Regions from separate parts of the Homo sapiens genome. Here regions 1 and 3 are each linked to region 2. Evidence: fine-mapped expression QTL. A gene starts in region 2. Each other region holds a variant in brackets. All regions are shown on one strand. Distances are between the middles of the regions. Region 1 overlaps PFDN1 (prefoldin subunit 1). Region 2 holds the start of PFDN1 (prefoldin subunit 1). Region 3 overlaps CYSTM1 (cysteine rich transmembrane module containing 1).

Region 1 (7,281 bases), 24 kb after region 2:
AAAAAAAAAAAAAAAATGGAGGGGCGCTCCACTTTACAAATATAGTTTAAAAAATATCTAGATAAAAATTGAAACAGATAACTGAAAAAACAAAACTTATAGGGTATTTGTTTGTATGTTGACTTTTCTCTTAGCGTATGATATATTTTTATTCCTTTATTATTTTTTCTTTTACATATGAATCTACTTGAAGCCTGATTTTCTTTTCTTTTTTTTTTTTTTTTTAATGTTTTTAAGACAGGATCTTGCTCTGTTACCCAAGCTGGAGTGCAGTAGCACAATCATGGCTCACTACAGCTTTGATATCTCAGTCTCAATTGATCCTCCCACCTCAGCCTCCCTAGTAGCTGGGACTACAGGCGTGTGCCACTGTGCCTGACTAATATTTTAAATTTATTTTTTGTAGAGATGGGTCTCATCATGTTGCCTGGGCTAGTCTTGAACTCCCAGGCTCAAGCAGTCCTCCTGCCTCGGCCTCTCAGAGTGCTGGGATTACAGGTGTGAGCCACTGTGCCCAACTCCCGCAACCCCCCCGCTTTTTTTTTTAATGAGACAGGGTCTTGCTATGTTGCCCAGACTAGACTCAGACACCTGGGCTCAAACAATCCTCCCACCTCAGCCTCCTGAGTATCTGGGACTGTAGGCCCACACCACTGTTCCCTGCCTGATTCCTATATTAAATAAGAAAGCAGAATCTACTTTTAAGCCTTTATTCCTTCTCAGCCAAGAAGGTTTAAACTTCTGGTGGTTTCCTGAGCTTGACGTATTATGTTAATATGCATTTGTCCTTTTAATTTGCTCAGTTTAATATTTGTAGTATGTAGCTATTGATTTCGATGAATTCAATAGTCATGTGGCTTAATTTTCAACTTTCTTGTGTTTCATAGGTTTATTCTTCAGTCCAAGGAAGCAATTCACAGTCAGCTGTTAGAGAAGCAGAAAATAGCAGAAGAAAAAATTAAAGAACTAGAAGTAAGTTTTTATTGGCAATAGGAGTTAACTTTTGGGAGAAAGTAGTAATCTTATTGTGTCATATTAAATGAAAATGTATGCCTGCCTGCCAAAGTAATGTCATATTATTTTTATTTTCTATAATTACGTTGGAGCCGTGAAGCTGTCATATTCATATTCATAGCGCATATAAGACCAAAACAAAAAAAAAAGAATAGTCTCTTCTTTGGAACTGCAGAGAATTTTGATGAGATGGTTTTAACCTGAATGTATTTTGTTCATTGCCCTTGAATGTGTTTATTCTTTAAAAAAAACAAAACCATAAACAAAATGTAATGTATATTTAAACAACACTTGTGTAGTGGATTGTGGTGGATGGGCAGGAGAGTGGGTAATAATGATAAATTTTAGAGGATCTTGGTATAGGGTCTTTTTTACACATTGTAATTTCTTTAACCTAAATTAGGTTCTATATAAGGACAAAGTAGCAAGCTATAACCAATTAACTATCTGAAGGATGGTGCTCCAATGAGAACAATTTTTTCTTTTTAGCTAGGGAAAAAGATGATAGGTAACAGTAAGCAAATCTTTGGAAATATTACTTTATTATTTTTATTATTATAATTTATTTATACATTAAGACCTTTAGTGAGATATTCTTCTTGGGCTTTGGTGAAAGGCCCATCCTGTGTATAGTAAAAGTTAGACTGGACAAAAAGCTGGTTATTTCTTAGGGACCAAGATTTCCCAACATGTGGGTGGATACATTGACTTCATAGGTCATTTCATCTAATTTCTGTAAGTACTATTTGAGGCAGAGGATCAGAATCTAACTCAGCCCTCTGCTGAATTTGGGAGCTACAACTTGTAGCCTCCTGAGGATTTCTTAGGGGCACTGAATTGGCCTGGCCTGGGAGTATGCAGTATCTTAGGTTACTTAGGCTTATTTTTAACTACTGATAGTTGAAACAAACTTGATAATAGATTTGCAGCTTAGAAAAGTGTATTGTAAAAACAAGACAAAAAAGCAAAAAAACCAAGTAAAGAAAAAACAGCCTGTGATAACCAGATTGTTGTTGTGTCCTATTTTAACATTTTAATCAGCTCAACTGTTCTAAGAGGTTCAGTTTGATATCTGTGTTTTCACTCATAAGAAACAAAAGTATCTTTAAAAACCCAAACAGAATCATTTCATGTAGATAAAACAAAATGCATTTTTGCAACTGTAGGTAAATATATTTAAAATTATCCTAATGAATAATAAGTAGCAAGGTAATATGTATATAATTCTCTTTATGAAAACAAAAAACAAACATTTGTGTATGAATATTGAAGATGATATGTAAGGATATATATTAAATTGTTAATACTGTTTACCCTAAAGAAATTAGATGGGACGTAGGGATAAATGATTTTTTCTTTTTCTTTCTTTCTTTTCTTTTCTTTTCTTTTTTTGTTTTTTTTTTTTTTTTTTGAGACGGAGTTTCGCTCTTGTTGCCCAGGCTGAAGTGCAATGGTGTGATCTCGGCTCACTGCTACCTCCGCCTCCTGGCTTCAAGCGATTCTCCTGTCTCAGCTTCCCAAGTAGCTGGGATTACAGGCATGCGCCACCACGCCCTGCTAATTTTGTGTTTTTAGTAGAGATGGGATTTCTCCTTGTTGGTCAGGCTGGTCTCGAACTCCCGACCTCAGATGATCTGCCTGCCTCGGCCTCCCAAGTGCTGGGAATCATAGGCCACTGCGCCTGGCCTTGATTTTTTTCTTACAATCTCTGTAATAATAAATTATAACAAGTATACATTAACTTTTTTTGTTGTTAACTTTCATGATTAAAAAATTAGCAGAGTGGGCACAGTGGCAAATGCTTGTAGTCCCAGCTACGGGAGGCTGAAGCGGGAGGATTGCCTGAGGCATTCCAGCCTGCGCAACATAACAAGACCTTGTCTCTTTAGGGAAAAAAAAAAACACAAAAACCCCAATTATCAAGGTGAAATTGCCACAGGTGATGATTTTATCAATACCGTACTGCTGAGTTCTGGTGAATATTAAGAAATTTACTTTCTGCAAGTTTCCTTTTGTTGAGTGTCTCAAATACTGGTAGAATGTTTTATCTTTTAGGAAGTTCTTTTTTCTTTTTTAATTTTTCATTTTACATGTTACTTACATTATAAAAGCAATAGAAGTACACCATAAATAAAATATAAAACAAATGATTAAACAATGAAAATATTACTTTGTTTTTCCACCCTCGGTACATCCA[A/C]ATGTCACCTCTACGGTTTCTGTATCATTCCAAACTTCTATATTTATATCAAGACATTCATACATGCATATATATACACAACCTTTTTTTAAAATAGGAATTATGCTATATATACTGTTTTCCATCATTTGACAGTTTATCTTGCTACTTTAGTAATATAACTCCAGTTTATATACAATTTCTTTTTTTGATTCCCATCATCATGGGCTCCTTACCATGAGCCTTATTTCAGCATTTAATATGTTCTCCAGTACTTCCCTAATCTGTGCTTTTAACAGTATCACCCAGTGTATACTCCCCTCTCTTCTCTGAAACAATCCTATACTTTTCCACTGCTACAACTTTATGGTTTTATTACTTCAGCACACCCCCACATGTGCACTTATGCACATATACACTGTTAATTGTGATGTTCAAATTTTGTGTGTATCTTACTGAATTATCATCTGCTTATTCATTTAGTTACTGAGAGATGTGATGAATCTTCCTCTATGACAGTGTTTATCAATTTCTCCTTAATCTGTCAGTTTAGTGGGCAGTGATATTTAGAGAATACAGTGTTGGGGGGGCAAGTGCTCATTATTACTGTATACGAAGTTTGGAGCTTATGTTTTGTTTTTTGTTTTTTTTTTTTTTTTTTTTTTTTTTTTTTGAGACAGAGTCTCATTCTGTCCCAGGCTGGAGTCCAGTGGTGTGTCTTGGCTCACTGCCACCTCTGCCCCAAAGGTTCAAGCGATTCTTCTGCCTCAGCCTCCTGAGTACCTGGGACTACAGGCCCACCATGCCTGGCTAATTTTTGTATTTTTAGTAGAGATGGGGTTTCACCATGTTGCCCAGACTGGTCTCGAACTCCTGACCTTGTGATCCACCCACCTTGGCCTCCCAAAGTGCTGGGATTACAGGTGTGAGCCACCATGCCTGACTGGGGCGTATGTCTTATTTTGTTTTATGTTAGGAATTTCTCAGCTCTTCTGTTTATATTTATTTATTTTTTATTGTTTTGAGATGGCATCTTGCTCTGTTGTCCAGGCTGGAGTGCAGTGGCATGATCTTGGCTCACTGCAGCCTCCGCCTTCTGGGTTCAAGCGATTCTTCTGCATCAGCCTCCTGAGTAGCTGGGATTACAGCCACCATGCCTGGCTACTTTTTGTATCTTTAGTAGAGACGGGGTTTGGGTTTCACCATGTTGGCCAGGCTGGTCTTGAACTCCTGACCTCCAGTGATCTCCCCACCTCAGCCTCCCAAAGTGCTGGGATTACAGGTGTGAGCCACAGCACCTGACCTGTCAGCTCTTTTAAAGATAACCATTCTACTGACTTGTGGCTTCCACTGTTGCTGTTAAGAAGTCATCTGTTAGTCTAATTGTTGTTAATTTGTCTTTTCTCTTTACCTGTTTTTACTTGTCTATGTCTTTCATGCTTTGTAGTTTCTCTGGGATGTGTTTAGGTGTCGATTTATTCCTTTTCTTTTTTTTTTTAATTTGAGATGGGGTCTCACTCTGTCACTCAGGTTGGCTTGTAGTTGGGTGATCTCAGCTCACTGCAGCCTCCACCTCCCAGGCTTAAGCAATCCTCCCACCTCAGCCTCCCAAGTAGCTGAGACCACAGGCATGCTACCACGCGTGGCTAATATTTTTTTCTTTATCTTAGTTAGAATTTGTTGGGTTTCCTGAATCTGAGGATTAGTGTTTTTTTTTTAATAAATTCTGGAAAATTTGTATTTCTGAAGATTACTTCTTCCTTATTTTGTTTATTAATGATATTTCCTTTTGGAATTTTTCCCCACCTTTGAACTGGCTGCCACCACCATCTGCAGTAGGATATTAACTGATTTTACCATATCCAGCCTTCTCTCGTTCAGTTCTTTTTATAACATATTTAAGTTAGAATGACCTTTCTAAAATGTTAAATCTGATCATATTACTCTCTCATGTAAAACCAATAGTTGTTCTTAGGGTTAAGTTCAAACTTTTTTTTTTTTTTTGAGACGGAGTTTTGATCTTGTTGCCCAGGCTGTAGTGCAATGGCATGATCTTGGCTCACTGCAACCTCCACCTCCTGGGTACAAGTGATTCTCCTGCCTGCCTCAGCCTCCTGAGTAGCTGGGACTACAGGCATGTGCCACTATGCCCAGCTAATTTTTTTGTATTTTTAGTAGAGACGGGGTTTCAACATTTTGGCCAGCCTGGTCTCGAACTCCTGACCTCGGGTGATCTGCCCGCCTTGGCCTCCCAAAGTGCTAGGATTATAGGTGTGAGTGAGCCACTGTGCCCAACCAGTTCAAACTTTTTAACATACCTTGAAGGCCTTTAAAGATATGATTTCTGTTTATTTCTCTCATCCCTCTCATTTCCTCTGCCTTCTGTTATACTGTATGCTTTAGCCATGCAAAAATACTCTCAGTCTTTTTTTTTTTTTTTTTTTTTTTTTGAGACGGTGTCTCACTCTGTCACCCAGGTTGGAGTGCAGTGGCGCTATCTTGGCTCACAGCAACCTCTGCCTCCTGGGTTGGAACAATTCTCCTGCCTCAGCAGGAGATCCCTTCTGGGATTACAGGTGTGTGCCACCACGCCCAGCTAATTTTTGTATTTTTAGTAGAGACAGGGTTTTGCATGTTGGCCAGACTGGTCTTGAACTCCTGACCTCAGATGATCCACCCACCTCTGCCTCCCAGAGTGCTGGGATTACAGGCATGAGCCACCACACTTGGCCAATACTCTCAGTCTTTGGAGCTTGCTCTTTTTTCATTCTGCTAGATCTTCGAAAAGTAGTTATCTCCACTTGGGAACTTCCTCCCTCTGCCTTTATCAATTCCATCTACTAATCCTTCAGATCTTAGCATAGAATTACTTCTCCTGAGAACCATTTTCTGATTCCTCAGTCTTAAGTTAGCTGCTTCTTTCTTGTGTTCTCTGGTTACTCTGTTAGTTTCTTAGCACATTGTAGGGATTTGGAAATATAAACTCTCACCAGTTGAGTAAATCATAAATATGGTTTCCTATTACTTTGGAAGCTTGATACAGATTTAGAGCTCTAAATGATTTTCCCCAAGTCCTTGGTGTTGCTCCTGTTTTCAAATCTGCAGTCTCTTCTTCTAGACCTAGTATTTCTTGTCAGTCTAATCTACTTCATTTTAATCCTCTGTAATTATCATCATCATCATCATCATCATCATCATCATCATCATCATCATCAATTTCTCTTCTGAGATACCCTGTATTAAGTTGGGGAGGCACAATTTATACCCAACTCTGTAGACAAAGGCCATGCTATTTCTATTTATCATGTTTTCATCTCTGAAAGAGTAAGGTTCATATTGGTTGGGGTCAGAGTTCCAGTTTTTGATAAAAGCTGTTAACTTGTTTTACTGATTTGGCCCACCGAGTATGCTTCCCCACCCTCTACCCACAGTTTGTGTAGATGGCAGGAGGGACAAACCTTTTCCATGACATAGGTGCTGGTCTGATTCAGGTTCTCTAACCTGATACCCCATTTTCATTAGTATTTGCTAGGTTCCCTTTTACCCAGCTTTGTTCTTTCTGTTTCTTTATACTTGCCCTCTCCTGATTTCTTTTTTCTGATCTTATTTATGAGTGCAAAGCTTACCTAGACTTTGTTTAGCTTTTTGTAGCTTTGTCATGTTGTGCCCTATGTCATCAGCCAGCCAAGTGGCCTCATCTACTGGCCCTTGTCTCTTATAGGCAGGGGTGGGGGTACTACTTGCCCTCATGTTAATCTTGATAGGGAGTCATATTCCTTATTAGCAGAATAAACACAAGCACTGTCTTTTTTTTTTTTTTTTGAGACAGAGTCTCGTTCTGTCTCCCAGGCTGGAGTGCAGTGGCGCAATCTCGGCTCACTGCAGGCTCCGCCTCCCAGGTTCACACCATTCTCCTGCTTCAGCCTCCCGAGTAGCTGGGACTACAGGCACACCCCGCCATGCCCAGCTAATTTTTTTTGTATTTTTAGTGAGACAGGGTTTCACCGTGTTAGCCAGGATGGTCTCAATCTTCTGACCTCGTGATCTGCCTGCCTTGGCCTCCCAAAGTGCTGGGATTACAGGTGTGAGCC
Region 2 (7,281 bases):
TGCTAGGATTATAGGTATGAGCCACCACGCCTGTCCCAAAACCCTACTTTCAAATAGGGTCACATTCTGAGGTACTGGGAGTTAGGACTTCAACATATCTTTTGTGGGGGGCACAATTCAACCTGTAAAACAAAGATGAAGAGAATTTACTTATCAGACATTCTTACTAAAAGAACCTACTGAAGGATTTCCTTTATCATGAAGGAAATTAGGCTGGGTGCAGTGGCTCATGCCTGTAATCCCAGCACTTTGAGAGGCTGAGGCAGGTGGATCACCTGGGGTCAGGAGTTCAAGACCAGCCTGGCCAACATGGTGAAACCCCATCTTTACAAGAAATACGAAAAGTAGCCAGGTGGTGACATGCACCTGTAATCCAAGCTACTAGGGAGGCTGAGGCAGGAGAATTGCTGGAACCCGGGAGGTGGAGGCTGAAGTGAGCTGAGATTGAACCACTGCACTCTAGCCTGGGTGACAGAATGAGACCATGTCTCAAAAAAGAAAAAAAAAAAAAAAGGAAATTAAACTCATGAGGAAGAAGTAGTATACAAATACACAAAGAGAAACAATGACCAAACAAACAATGCAGAGAAGACTCTTGCCTAAGATCATATTACCCTTAAGTAGTATAATCAGTATTTGTACCCAGGTTGTCTGACAGCTTAGCCCAGGCTCTTAACTTTTACAGTCCATACATCTCTATGAGGACTCTTTCAAAAGTCTCATGAGGTAATGTACAGGACAGTATTTCAGACTTTTTTTGAATTTCAATATTCAATCACTATTTTATTTTATTTTATTTTATTTTATTTTTTGAGACAAGGTCTCACTCTGTCTTTCAGGCTGGAGTGCAATGACACAATTGATCCCCACTCACTGCAGCCTTGGCCTCCAGGCCTCACACAATTCTCCTGCCTCAGCCTCCTGAGTAGCTGGGACTACAGGGGCATGCCACCATGCCTGGCTAATCAGTCAGTATTTATTGATCATCTGTAATGAGAATCTAAGAAGGTCCCAGAGAATCAAAATATCAGATCCTTTTTACTCTTTCTCAAATTGGGGAGGAATGAGTCTTCTTTTTTTTTTCCAGAATAATTTATTCACATCCAGTATCCATTTTGTATTTTTTTCCCGTGATGCACTGTGACAGGTGTTCTAGGTACAAGAGGTGGAAGAACCATTATTCCATAGTTCTTGATTTCAAGGAGCTTACAGTCTAAGAAAAATGTTTTCTAAAAAAAGGTAGACAGTGTTATATGCCTTGAGAGAGAAATAGATGTTGTGAGGGGAGTTCAGAGGAGAGATTATCTTTGCTCTGTGTGATGGGGGATGTAGTGCCCATTTGCTGGACTTTGAAAGACAAACAGGACGGCGATTAACACCAGTGATTTATTGAGTATCTACTTGTGTGCATGGAGCTATGTTTGGAGCTTTTTATCCTGATCTCATTTATTTCTCACAATAACCCTGTTAGGTCAATATGGTCACTCTCAAACATGAGAAGACTGAAGCTCATTAAAAATAGGTGGCAGATGCTGGACGTGGTGGCTTGCCTGTAATCCCAGCCCTTTGGGAGGCCGAGGCAGGCGGATCACTTGAGGCTGGGAGTTGGAGACCAGCCTGGGCAACACGGTGAAACCCGTCTCTACCAAAACTACAAAAATTAGCCGGGCGTGGTGGCAGGCGCCTGTAATCCCAGCTACTCGGGAGGCTGAGGCAGGAGAATCACTTGATCCTGGGAGGCAGAGGTTGCAGTGAGCCGAGATCGTGCCACTGCATTCCAGCCTGGGTGACAGAGCGAGACCCTGGCTCAAAAAAAAAAAAAAAAAAAAAATGTGGCCGGGTGCGGTGGCTCAAGCCTTTAATATCAAAGCACTACAGCACTTTGGGCGACCAAGGCGAGCGGATTGTTTGAGCTCAGGAGTTTGAGACCAGCTTGGGCAACAAGGTGAAAACCCGTCTGTACAAAAATATAAAAATTAGCTGAGTGTGGGTGGCGCGCGCCTGTAGTCCCAGCGCTACTCACGAGGCTGAGGTGGGAGGATCGCTTGAGCGCGGGAGGTAGAGGCTGGAGTGAGTCGTGATTGCACCATTGCACTCGAGCCTGGGTGACAGAGCAAGATCCTGTCTCAAGAAACAAACAAACGTACAAAAAAAAAAAAAAACCCCACAAAATATCCAAGTGACTTGCTTAAAGTCACACAATTAGTAAATGGAACCAGACATAGGCTAAAGGCAGACCAAGCCTTGAATCTAGATTAGGCTGGTTCCAAATTCCCTGCCCTTTCATCTCCCTAACAGTTTGTTTTCTTTCTCTCTTTCTTTCTTTTTTTAAAAAATAAAATAAATTTCCTAATTATTTATGTAGCACTTTCTCTTAGCATAACAGTTTTTAGAGTAGGTTAACTTTTTTTTCCATTTCCAAAAGTCAATTATTATCTATTCTGGTTCAAATGCCAGGTCCTTTTATGGCAGAGATTCTCAAAAAAGTGATCCGCGGAGGAGTTGCACCATTAGGTCACTGGGGTAGTCTGCAAAAGTGCAAATTTCCAGACCCCATTCTCAAAGATTCTGAGTACGTTTGAGATGAGACCCAGAGAACCTGCATTTTTTTGTTTTTAAACAAACGTATTCAGCCTCTCTTGAGAACCACTGTGCCTAGAATGTCTTTGGGAAGCTTTTGGAAGTAATAAGTTCGTTTTGGAAAGAACACTCCAGACAAGCTTTCCAATAGTCTTTCCCAAACTGTCATGCCTGAGGTTCTGGACTTACTCTTACTCATTCCTGAGAGCACAGCGACTAGCTGAAGGACTGATCGACTGATGAGGGTTTGACCTCATCTACATACATCTCAATTTAGCAGCACATATTAAGCTAGCTGGCAAACTGCTTAAAGCCACATGGGAAATCTGCGCGTTGGGCTATGTCTGGAAGATACGGAGGAGCAAGCCAGACCTGACCGGTCAGGTAGTGAAGACACGGAATCCGAAACCCAAATATTTCAGGAGTCAATTCTCAGAGAAAGATAAGAAGCCCGGTTAGTCCAACTCATGCGCAGGCGCAGAAGAAAGACCGGCGCACAAAGTAAGACGCGCCCTTCCCCACCCTATTTCAGTCCAACTCCCACTGCGCAGGCGCTTACAGTGCACCAAGATGGCCGCCCCCGTGGATCTAGAGCTGAAGAAGGTAAAAGAGGGTCTTTGGCAGGCGGAGGTCTTCTTTTTGGAGGCTGAGGGGACTATAGACAAGAATATCAAGTGAGGCACGAGCCTTGCAGAAGGAAGGAGGGTCCAGTGGACTAGGGAATGGTTTCCCAGAGTCCTAAGGCCTCACTGGGTCTCCATAAACGGGGTGGGGGGCGAGCGGCTCTTGCTGGGTAGGAGCCGGTTGGTCTGGGTCGGGTAAGTCTGCGGGCCTGTCTCGGGCTTGTCCAGTCTTTCTGAGCTCCAGAGACATTTCGTTGCGTTTGGAGGCTTCAGGGACTCACTTTCATAGTAAGAACTAAAGAGAGCATTTCAAATGGGGGTCCCTTCGGACCCCTTGCCTGAGCTGTGGCATCCGTAATTCTGCCTCATTTGCTTTGAAAAACTCCAAGTCCAACCTTTGTTTTTAGGCCATTTATTCGGTTCTGTACCTTGAAAGTTGCAATATCTACAGTTCGGAAAACCAAGCATTGTAGCAGCAATGTTCATTTCAGGATTTTGCCCCCCCTCCACTTCTTTTGAAGGACTCGTCAAACAAAACAAAACAAAACCTCCTTCTTTTGAAGGAATTGTCAAAAACAAAACAAAACCAGTAAAGTTTTCCAAATAAAACCGGTATCGGAAGGAATTGGGTTTCCTGTTTTCCTCAGTTGCTTATAAATGTGTTGTTATTCAGATTTTTGCTATCTAAGAATGATCAGCATTCTAACACCACTAATGACCCCAAACCAGTATGCTTTGTGCGGTGGGGTGGATTGGAAAGGACCCTAGAATTTATCTATTTTAAATCTACTTTTCTGGAAAAGGAACCAGTGCCAGAAAAGTCTGTCAGAAGTTGGGACTAGAATCCAGTATTCTCTGCCTTATCTCACACTTTTTTGACCACTATTTTGAGTTCTTCAGATGAGCAACATCTTAGTTAAGACTGCCTGTGGTCAACTTGTGTAAAAGAAATAGGACAGCCGAAATAGCTGTTGCTTCTAACAAATGAAGCTTTTGTTAGTGTTGTGAGGATATTATGTGTTTGTGTCTTGCTTTTGTTCTTCTTGTCTTGAATCTTGTAAATTTAGCTCTTAGGTGGAGTCTCTAATCTTTAACAGTATACTAGCTCATCTTTAATGGTATACTAGCTTCCTTAGCAAGCTGTATAGAGCAGTCAGATGATACCTGGAATTTTACATTTCAAAACAAAATTGTGCATTCTAAAAATTTACCTTTTCTTCTGTTAAAAGTACCGATTTAAATCAGGGTTTAGTGAATGGATTTGCCTCCCGGTACTTTTGAATTTATTGCTACATTTGAAACTTGCGGGCGGTGAATGCAAACTAAGAAAATGATTACAAACTTAAAATGAATAATTTTGATAACCAATTAATTAAAAAACTTGTTTAAAGGTTTTATCTTCTAATGTTTTTACAGGGTCCTTTTTTTGGGTGGAGACAAATAGGAAATTTCAGGCCCCTCCCCTTCCCCAAAGTAAATCTTTCAAAACCTTACTAGTAGGTGAAAACAAGGTCACAATAAAAATTATGTAGTAGCCTTTGCTGTGCATTGCAGTCACAGATGTTATTAAGGCACAAATTTAACAGCATGTGAAAGTCATTCCAGGCACTTCAACAAAAGTATCCAAGAACTGTTTATCTTCCAGTTAAGTAAGTGTACGCAAGGGTCAAATTTGGCCTGGTATCTGTGGATGAAGATCATGATGCAATTCTTTTGCCAGTGCTTTGCATTTTTTCTCACTCTCTTTCTTGGTCTTCCTCTTAAAAATGTTCATATTATGAATATTACTATAGACAGTGGAATGGAAAGATTGCTGAACTAAGGGGTTAGAAGAAATGGATTTAAATAACACCTGCCTTCCCCCCAGTAGTTGTTCAACCTTGTGCAAGCCACTTTTATCTCTTAACTCATTTGGTTACTTAATTTGTAAATTGTGGATGATGAGACTGCCAATGCTAACTCATGGAATTACTGAGAGGCATAAATGAGATATTTATTATATTTCCTCATTAATATTCTTATATTAATATTCCCATGTTAATATTTCAAACTAATGTGAGAAAGTGCTTTGAAACCTAATTGTGCAATACAAATGTAGTGAGTTATTACTTTTATGGTTCTTGTTTTGAATCTCTGGATTTCATCCTTGACTATTGCATTTATTTCTTTTACTACTCCTTGAGTACTTGCTACTTAATATGGTTATTACTTAATATGCATTTGATTTGCTTCACACTGATTGTATCTTCTGATGATTGTAAATTCAGTATTTAGTATGGTGACTTGATTGTTTACAGTTATGTTGACTTTTATTGATGTTTGGTAAATTTCACAGCTTTGTCTCTGGCTAGCATATTTTGTTTTAATATATTTGGATTTGAGGTAAATGTTTCCTGTAAAATGTTTTACCTACTAAATCATGGACTTGTTTTTATTAGGCCTTCACAGAGCTTCAAGCCAAAGTTATTGACACTCAACAGAAGGTGAAGCTCGCAGACATACAGATTGAACAGCTAAACAGAACGAAAAAGCATGCACATCTTACAGATACAGAGATCATGACTTTGGTAGATGAGACTAACATGTATGAAGGTGTAGGAAGAATGTAAGTAAAATGTGTCCTTAATGGAGTTATTTTGGGAGTGCTTTTGTCCGAGTTAAATAGAATTTGTTCATCTTAAAACTTGGGTTAGGCCAGGAGTGGTGGCTCATGCCTGTAATCCTGGCACTTTGGGAGGTCGAGGCGAGTGGATCACTTGAGGGCAGCCTGTTGGCCAGTATGGTGGAACCCTGTATCTACCACAAATACAAAGATTAGCTGAGCATGGTGGCACTTGCCTGTAGTCTTGGCTACTTGGGAGGCTGAGGCAGGAGAGTCGCTTGAACCCCGGAGGTGGAGGTTGCAGTGAGCCGAAATCATGCCACTGCACTCCAGCCTGGGCAGCAGAGCTAGACTCTGTCTCAAAACAAAAGAAACTTTGGTTTAAAGTAAGTATCTTTTTCTTTTTGAGACGGAGTTTTCGCTATATCGCCCAGGCTGGAGTGCAATGGCCCGATCTTGGCTCACTGCAATCTCCGTCTCCTGGGTTCAAGCGATTCCCCTGCTTCAGCCTCCTGAGTGACTGGGATTACGGGCGCTTGCCACCACGCCCTGCTAATTTTTGTGTTTTTAGTAGAGACGGGGTTTTACCATATTTGCCAGGATGGTCTGGAACTCCTGACCTCCTGATCCGCCCACCTCAGCCTCCCAAAGTGCTGGATTACAGATATGAGTCACCACACCCGGCAGGTTAAAGTATCTTAGAAATAACTTTAAAGATTATCTAATTAAATGCTTTCTTTTTTTAAAATGAGGAGCTGAACTTCAGGTAGATTAATTAAAGTGTTTAAGTTTAGACTTTAAAGTACATTTTTTTTTTTTTTTTGAGACAGAGTCTCGCTCTGTTGCCAGGCTAGAGTGCAGTGGTGTGATTCTGGCTCACTGCAACCTCCGCCTCTTGGGTTCAAACAATTCTGCCTCAGCCTCCTGAGTAGCTGGGACTACAGGCGCATGCTACCATGCCCGGCTAATTTTTGTATTTTTAGTAGAAATGGGGTTTTACCGTGTTGGCCAGGATGGTCTCAATCTCTCCTCTTGATCCGCCCGCCTTGGCCTCCCACAGTGCTGGGATTACAGGCGTGAGCCACCGCCCCTGGCCTCAAAGTACATTTCTTAAGTGCTTACTTTCCTGTTCTGTCTATGATTAGGTACTTAAGTGTAAGTTCAGTAATAAAAATGATTTGTCATGGAAAATGTTTATAGCAATATTATATTGTATGTGAAGAAGATTTATTTAAGTAGGTGCAGTTTTAACCTCCTCTTCCCTGCTTAATTTATTAGGAGTGATACAAATCATAAATCTTTCAGATGTCTGATCAGTGTTGTAAAATAAAAATAAAAATTCAATTGTCATTTAAATACACTCATTCTGGCCAGGCATAGTGGCTCATGCCTGTAATCTCAGCACTGCAGGAGGCCAAGGTGGGTGGATCCCCTGAGGTTAGGGGTTTGAGACCAGCCTGGCCAACATGGTGAAAC
Region 3 (7,281 bases), 100 kb after region 2:
TTTAATTTTTCACTTTAAACAGTTATGATACTATGGCATATTTATTAGAATCTAGAAATAGTTTTGTTATTTAGAATGTTTCAGTCAACAGGAATTCACCTGTCACCACTGAAACTTGTGGTAATGTTTCCAAAGATCTCCCATCCCATATGCCTTTTTGCAATGTGACTTACCACTCTCCCAACAAGGAATGAAGTCTATTTTCCTCCCCTTGAAACTAGGCTAGATAGACTTCATGTTGCTTTGACCAAGAGTGTGATGGATGTGACATTGTGTGACTTCTGAGCCAAGGGGGTGAAAAAGCCTGATGGATCATTGTATTGTGGCTATGTAAGGTTTGGGGAAATCGGGATGAAAGGTATACAGAACCATTTGTATTATCTTTGCAATGTTTTTCTAAGTCTGAAATTGTTTCAAAATTAGAAGTTAAATCGAAAGTTTTTTGTTTCATTTCTTTTTTAAGGCTTTTATTTTATGTTCAGGGGTACATGTGCAGGAAGGCCTGGCAGATTCCATTCTTGCATTGTAACATGGAAAAAACCCACCTACTCTGAAACTCTCATGCTGTGACAGCAGCACTGAGAGACCATGCAGAGGGACAGAGACAACCAACCCTACGCTGTTTCAATCATGTCAGCTGAAATACCAGACGTGATTTTTTTTTCTTTTTGGATTTGAGATAATTTCTTGTTATAATGAGCCAGAATTACAAGGTTCCATTGGAACTGAAACAGCTGACAGAATAGGGTTGAAGTTAATCAAATCTTCAAGGACAATAAGATCAAACAAAGCCAGTAGAAGTGGAGAAACCCAACACTGGTTTGGAATGCACACAGAAATACTAGCATGTAGGTGCCTCCTGACCCCTCCCAGCAGTTGGACATCATGCTCCCACCCCTTTCTCCCTTCTAAAGCACTGGCCAAACCAAATGGCTTCTTTCTCTGTATTGCAAGTGTAAGTCAATCCAAGAGTACCCTTTTGGACATAATACAAAGCCAAGAAGAAAGTTGATGGATCATATTGGACGGTAGAAAGTGTACAAATCCAACCCAGCAAATTGCTTATCATTATCTACGTTCCAGCCTCAGTAGGTGCCAACAAGGAGCAGAGATGAATCAATCTTTCTGCTCAAGCCCTGTCCAAATTATGGAACCTCTAAGATTGGGGGTGGTTTGTGACGTAACAATAGATAACCAAAACATACATCAACCTTCCACCTATGGCAAATGCCTTAAATTCTGCTCTGGCAAGATCTGGCTGCCAAATGGACCTTTTGGATCTAATCCTTAGGGTGAGATCAGTTTCACATTGTTCTTTGCTAAGTGCTTTTGTTTCCAGAGTTCATTTTATACAGTACCACTGCTCTTATTTCAATAAGATTTATCTTCAGTATAACTTAAGAATATTAGCAGGCCAGGCGCAGTGACTCATGCTTGTAATCCCTGCACTTTAGGAGGCCGAGGAGGGTGAATCACCTGAGGTCAGGAGTTTGAGACCAGCCTGGCCAATACAGTGAAATCCCATTTCTACTAAAAATACAAAAATTAGCTGGGCTTGGTGGCGTATGCCTGTAATCCCAGCTACTCGGGAGGCTGAGACAGGAGAATCACTTGAACCTGGGAGGCGGAGGTTGCAGTGACCCGAGATTGCGCCACTGCACTCCAGCCTGGATGACAGAGCAAGACTCCGTCAAAAAAAAAAAAAAAAAAAAAAAGAGTATTAGAGGATTCCCCCACTTTCTGGTAGGAGGGTTTTCTTCTCCCTGCAATGTTTGTTCCCTCAGAATCCCTTTTTTCTGTTTGGATCATCATCTTTTATCTTGGAGGCTTTCTTTACTCAGATGTCTGGTGAACCTCCGTTGCTGGTTAATATCTAAGGCTAAGGTTCTATCACTTGTAGCCTTAAGAGTCTTGACCAAAACAAACAGTGAAAGCCTAAACACTAAGAGCAAGGTTGATTGAATTCAGACATAAAAAAGCTAAAATGGACTGTACATAAGGTAGACACTATTGAATCTGGAGCAAGAAGAAGGGCTCTGAAAGAAGTCTGTATAGGGTGCAGTTGAAGCAAATAGGAGTGGTAAATTCTACTGGAGGTATAGTATAGGTAAGCAAAAGCTTCAAGGAAGAAGAGATATTTTCTTTTGATCGCCAGAGATGTGTAGGGTAGGTTGTGGCAGAGTGGGAATGAGAGGTGGGAAGTAAAGGAAGCAGCATGAACAAAGTTAGGGTATATGGACCAGTATGGCAGGTTAGAGGCCTTACCTACATATAGACTACCTAGATGATAATATTCTGGATTTCAAGCTGATGTAATTATTGGATGAGACATCTAGTGGTGGTGGAAGGGGGTGGATATATTTTGCATATGAGGGGGATGTAAATTGTTGAGAGCAAAGGGCAGAATGTGGTGGACTGTTTGCACAGACGGTCACCAATTCCTCTCACCCTGTATTCACATGCCATTCCTCCAGGATGGAGTCTATTTTATACAAATGTTTATAACAGCCATTATTCATTATTCCTAATAGCCATAAAGTAGAAACAACCTAAATGCCCATCAACCAATGAAAGGATAACTAAAACGTGGTATATCCACAATGGAATATTATTTGGCAATAGGAAGGAATAAAGTATTGATACATGCTACAACATAGATGAACCCTGGAAATATCAAGCTAAGTGAAAGAAGCATGTAACAAAAGACCAAATATTGTATGGTTCCATTTATACAAAATGTCCAGAACAGACAAATCTATAGAGACAGAGTAGATTAATGGTGGGGAAGAGGCCGGGCGCGATGGCTCACGCCTGTAATCCCAGCACTCTGAGAGGCTGAGGTGGGCGGATCATCAGGTCAGGAGATCAAGACCATCCTGGCTAACACGGTGAAACCCCGTCTCCACTAAAAATAAAAAAATTAGCTGAGCATGGTGGCAGGCATCTGTAGTCCCAGCTACTCGGGAAGCTGAGGCAGGAGAATGGCGTGAACCCGGGAGGCAGAGTTTGCAGTGAGCCGAGATTGTGCCACTGCACTCCAGCCTGGGCGACAGAGTGAGACTCTGCCTCAAAAAAAAAAAAAAAAAAAAAGGCCGGGGGGAAGAGTGGAAGGAAATGGGGAGAGATTGCTAAAGGGTTTCTTTTTGGGGTGATGAAAGTGTTCTGTATATAGACCAATGGAACAGAACAGAGGCCTCAGAAATAACACCACACATCTATAACCACTTGATCTTTGACAAACCTGACGAAAACAAGCAATGGGGAAAGGATTCCCTATTTAATAAATGGTATTGGGAAAACTAGCTAGCCATGTGCAGAAAACTGAAACTGGACCCCTTCCTTATACCTTATACAAAAATTAACTCAATATGGATTAAAGACTTAAACGTAAGACCTAAAACCATAAAAACCCTAGAAGAAAACCTAGGCAATACCATTCAGGACATAGGCATAGGCAAAGACTTCATGGCTAAAACACCAAAAGCAATGGCAACAAAAGCCAACACTGACAAATGGGATCTAATTAAACTAAAGAGCTTCTGCACAGCAAAAGAAACTATCATCATCCCATATGTAGGCAACCTACAATATGGGAGAAAATTTTTGCAATCTATCCATCTGACAAAGGGCCAATATCCACAATCTACAAGGAACTTAAACAAATTTATGAGAAAAAAACAACCCCATCAAAAAGTGGGCAAAGAATATGAACAGACACTTCTCAAAAGAAGACATTTATGCGTCCAAAAACATATGAAAAAAAGTTCATCATCACTGGTCATTAGAGAAATGCAAATCAAAACCACAATGA[G/C]ATACCATCTCACGCCAGTTAGAATGGTGATCATTAAAAAGTCAGGAAACGGCTGGGCACCGTGGCTCACGCATGTAATCCCAGCACTTTGGGAGGCCAAGGTGGGCAGAACACTAGGTCAGGAATTCAACACCAGCCTGACCAATATGGTGAAACCTCATCTCTACTAAAAATACAAAAATTACAGCCATGGTGGCGCATGCCTGTAATCCCAGCTACTCAGGGGGCTGAGGCAGGAGAATCGCTTGAACCCCGGAGGTGGAGGTTGCAGTAAGTCAAGATCGCGCCACTGCACTCCAGCCTGGGCGACAGTGTGAGACTCCATCTCAAAAAACACAAAACAAAAACAATAAAAAGTCAGGAAACAATAGATGCTGGAGAGGATGTGGAGAAATAGGAACACTTTTACACTGCTGGTGGGAGCGTAAATTAGTTTAACCATTGTGGAAGACAGTGTGGTAATTCCTCAAGGATCTAGAACCAGAAATACCATTTGACCCAGCAATCCCATTACTGGGTATATACCCAAAGGATTATAAGTCATTCTACTATAAAGACACATGCACAGGTATGTTTATTGCAGCATTATTCACAATAGCAAAAACTTGGAACCAACCCAAATGCCCATCAATGATAGACTGGATAAAGAAAATGTGGCACATATACACCATGGAATACTATGCAGCCATAAAAAAGGATGAGTTCATGTCCTTTGCAGGGACATGGATGAAGCTGGAAACCATCATTCTCAACAAACCAACACAGGAACAGAAAACCAAACACCACATGTTCTTACTCATAAGTGGGAGCTGAACAAAGAGAACACATGGACACAGGGAGGGGAACACCACACACTGGGGCCTGTCGGGGAGTTGGGGGGCTAGGGGAGGGATAGCATTAGGAGAAATACCCAATGTAGATGACGGGTGCAGCAAACCACCATGGCACATGCATACCTATGTAACAAACCTGCACATTCTGCACATGTATCCTAGAACTTAAAGTATAATAATAAAAGAAAATGTTCTGGAATTATGATAGTGGTGATGGTTGAAAAACTCTGTTGATATACTGAAAACCATTGGATTGTACAACTTTAAATGGGTAAATTGTATGGTACATGAATTGTATGTCGAATATACCAAAAAAAGAGGGGGAGGAGGAAGGTGATATCTGTTCCCCCTCCTGTTGAAAGTGACTGGCCTTGAGACTTGTTTTGAATACTGGAATAAGGGGTAAGTGATGCTGTGCCAGTTCTGGGCCTAGCCCAAAATCCTGGCAGCTTCCACTTTCACTCTATTGGAAGCTAGTTGTCATGTAAAGCAGCTTAAGCTAGACCACCTAATGATGACAGACTATGTGCTGAGAGAGGCCTCGTGGAGGCAAACCAAGACCCTACTCATGTCAGTGAGGTCATCTTGGATAGCCTACACCCAGACAGGCTGACAGCTGAATTAAGTAACAAGAGTGACCCCACGAAAGATCACACGAAGCAAGAAGAGCCTCCCAGCCAACTCAGAGAATCATGAGAAATAATAAATCATTGTTGTTTTAAGCCAGTGAGTTGGGGGTGATATGTTATACAACAGATAACTGAAACAACCTTTCTGAGTCTCAGATTCCACTCCTATAACATGGGACTGATACTATGGGGTTGTTGTGAAGATTACATAAAGCTAACACCAAGCATGGTGCTCAACAAATACTAGTTGTTATTCTTAAAAACCACCCAGGAGATCCTTGACATAATCTGCAGGTATGCTCTTCTGGGAGACCTTATTCCTACAAGCACTTGCTGCTTCCAATCACATGGCTTCCAAAAGGTTGGCTTCTTAAAAAAACAAAAGGTGGGTTTTTTTGCTACAATCTCTGACACATGAATTCTAAAACATAAACAGATGACCAAGGAAGGTTCTGCTTAGGTTAGCCATCTACCCGACCCTGCTCATCCATTCATCACACCTTTATTAAGCCCTAACTAATTACCAGACGCCAATTAAGGATAAAGGAGATCCTCCCTCCTTTGAAAAAGAAACCATTTCTACCTATGTATCCATTAACATAATATGCCACACACTTGAACTTGAGTGGAGAGAGTATCTACAGTAGTAGATAAATCTAAAATCATTCAGCTGGAAAGAAAAAGCTTAAATTTCCATATAGAGCTCAGATACACAGCATGAGAACACATAATTCTGACTGAGAATCCCACAAGCAATACCAAAGCAAGGAATAAAATGGGTCCCTAAAGGGTTCATCACTCAGTGAGGCTACATTCTTCCAAGAGTCCCATTCACAGAACATGGACCCCAGGTGACAAAATTTGACCATTTGGCACTACCTGCTATGTTTGGGTGCAGAAAGGATCTGGGCAGTTAATAATTCACAAGCTAATGACAGAGAAATAAATTCCTGGGTATATCCATAGGAAAGGATATTAAACAGCTTTCAACTGCATTTGTGAAATCAATCGTGATTGGTAACACTGAACTAAGGAGCCTTTTAACCCTAAAAAGAATTAAGAAATTATTTTTCATCAAAAAGGCTGACATCAATACTTAAATTACATGAAAGGTAAGAAAGATGACCAAATCTGTATTTTCTGCATGAACAGTGGACAAAGTCCACTGAACCTAGGAAGCACTTATTCTAAACAAACTCAATAAAGTTCTAAACTCATCAAATGCTAGTTAGAGAGTCAGTATAAACAATATTGGCCTAGAAATGGACAGGAAGACCATGAGGGCTATAGGTGAAAGACCTAACACCAGGCAGGCATTGGGTTGAGTCTACCGGATAACTCAAATGCTGGGCTATCTTTCTCTGCTGACATAAAACGTACAGCAAAGTACACAAGTCATAACTATCTATCTTGAAGAATGTTTATATCAAGATTAAGATACAGAATATTCCTAACACCCCAGAAAGTTCCTTTGTTCCTAACCCAATGAATAACCAGTCCCACCCTAGTTTCCCAACTCCACAGCCAGGAGTAACCATTATTTTGATCTCTGGCATCATACATAGTTTTTGTCTGTTTTTGAATTTCACATAAATGGAATCATACCATATGTAGTCTTTTCTGCTTTCTTTTATTCATCACAGGGTTACCTTATTTTGAAGCAGAAAACCCAGAAGCTGAGGTTTATTTTCAGAAAATGTTTCTCTGATGTCACAGGCCTGAATACCAACTACTCCGATTATACTGGTTATACTTCCTGCCCTCTTCCGAGCATGCATGATAAAAACTGTTACAACAGAACACAATCTTGGATTGCAAAAGCTTCCTTCCAGATAAATTAAATTCTTTAAAGGTATTCAAATATTCTATTCAATCTTAACAGAGTATAAGCTTTGCCACTATAAAAGTATAATCTTTTCCATGAATGCAAAATTCTTATTCTAGAGAATCATCAAGTCCTAGAATAAAATTAGCCATCAATTCTGTTATTACTTTTGATTAGTAAAGA

What was found. PIP is the estimated chance that this variant, and not a neighbour inherited with it, causes the effect.
Region 1: its variant is the best candidate, but not a certain one, in a credible set for the expression of PFDN1 in whole blood (INTERVAL, PIP 0.64).
Region 3: its variant is the best candidate, but not a certain one, in a credible set for the expression of PFDN1 in whole blood (TOPMed, PIP 0.54).

What each region holds. Positions count from the first base shown.
Region 1 is chr5:140,275,140-140,282,420 of GRCh38, reverse strand. PFDN1 (prefoldin subunit 1) reads left to right here. Exons shown (of 4, transcript NM_002622.5): 3 at 888-972. Among named protein-coding and RNA genes, the nearest start is that of PFDN1, 24 kb to the left of the region's middle. RefSeq lists enhancers at 6,577-7,077, 7,078-7,281. The variant A/C (reference allele first, on the strand shown) is at 3,212.
Region 2 is chr5:140,298,943-140,306,223 of GRCh38, reverse strand. PFDN1 (prefoldin subunit 1) reads left to right here and starts at 3,123. Exons shown (of 4, transcript NM_002622.5): 1 at 3,123-3,183; 2 at 5,642-5,808. The coding sequence starts at 3,151. RefSeq lists a silencer at 3,014-3,218 and enhancers at 3,107-3,386, 6,778-7,281.
Region 3 is chr5:140,196,367-140,203,647 of GRCh38, reverse strand. All of the region lies in intron 2 of CYSTM1 (cysteine rich transmembrane module containing 1), which reads right to left. Among named protein-coding and RNA genes, the nearest start is that of CYSTM1, 25 kb to the right of the region's middle. The variant G/C (reference allele first, on the strand shown) is at 3,812.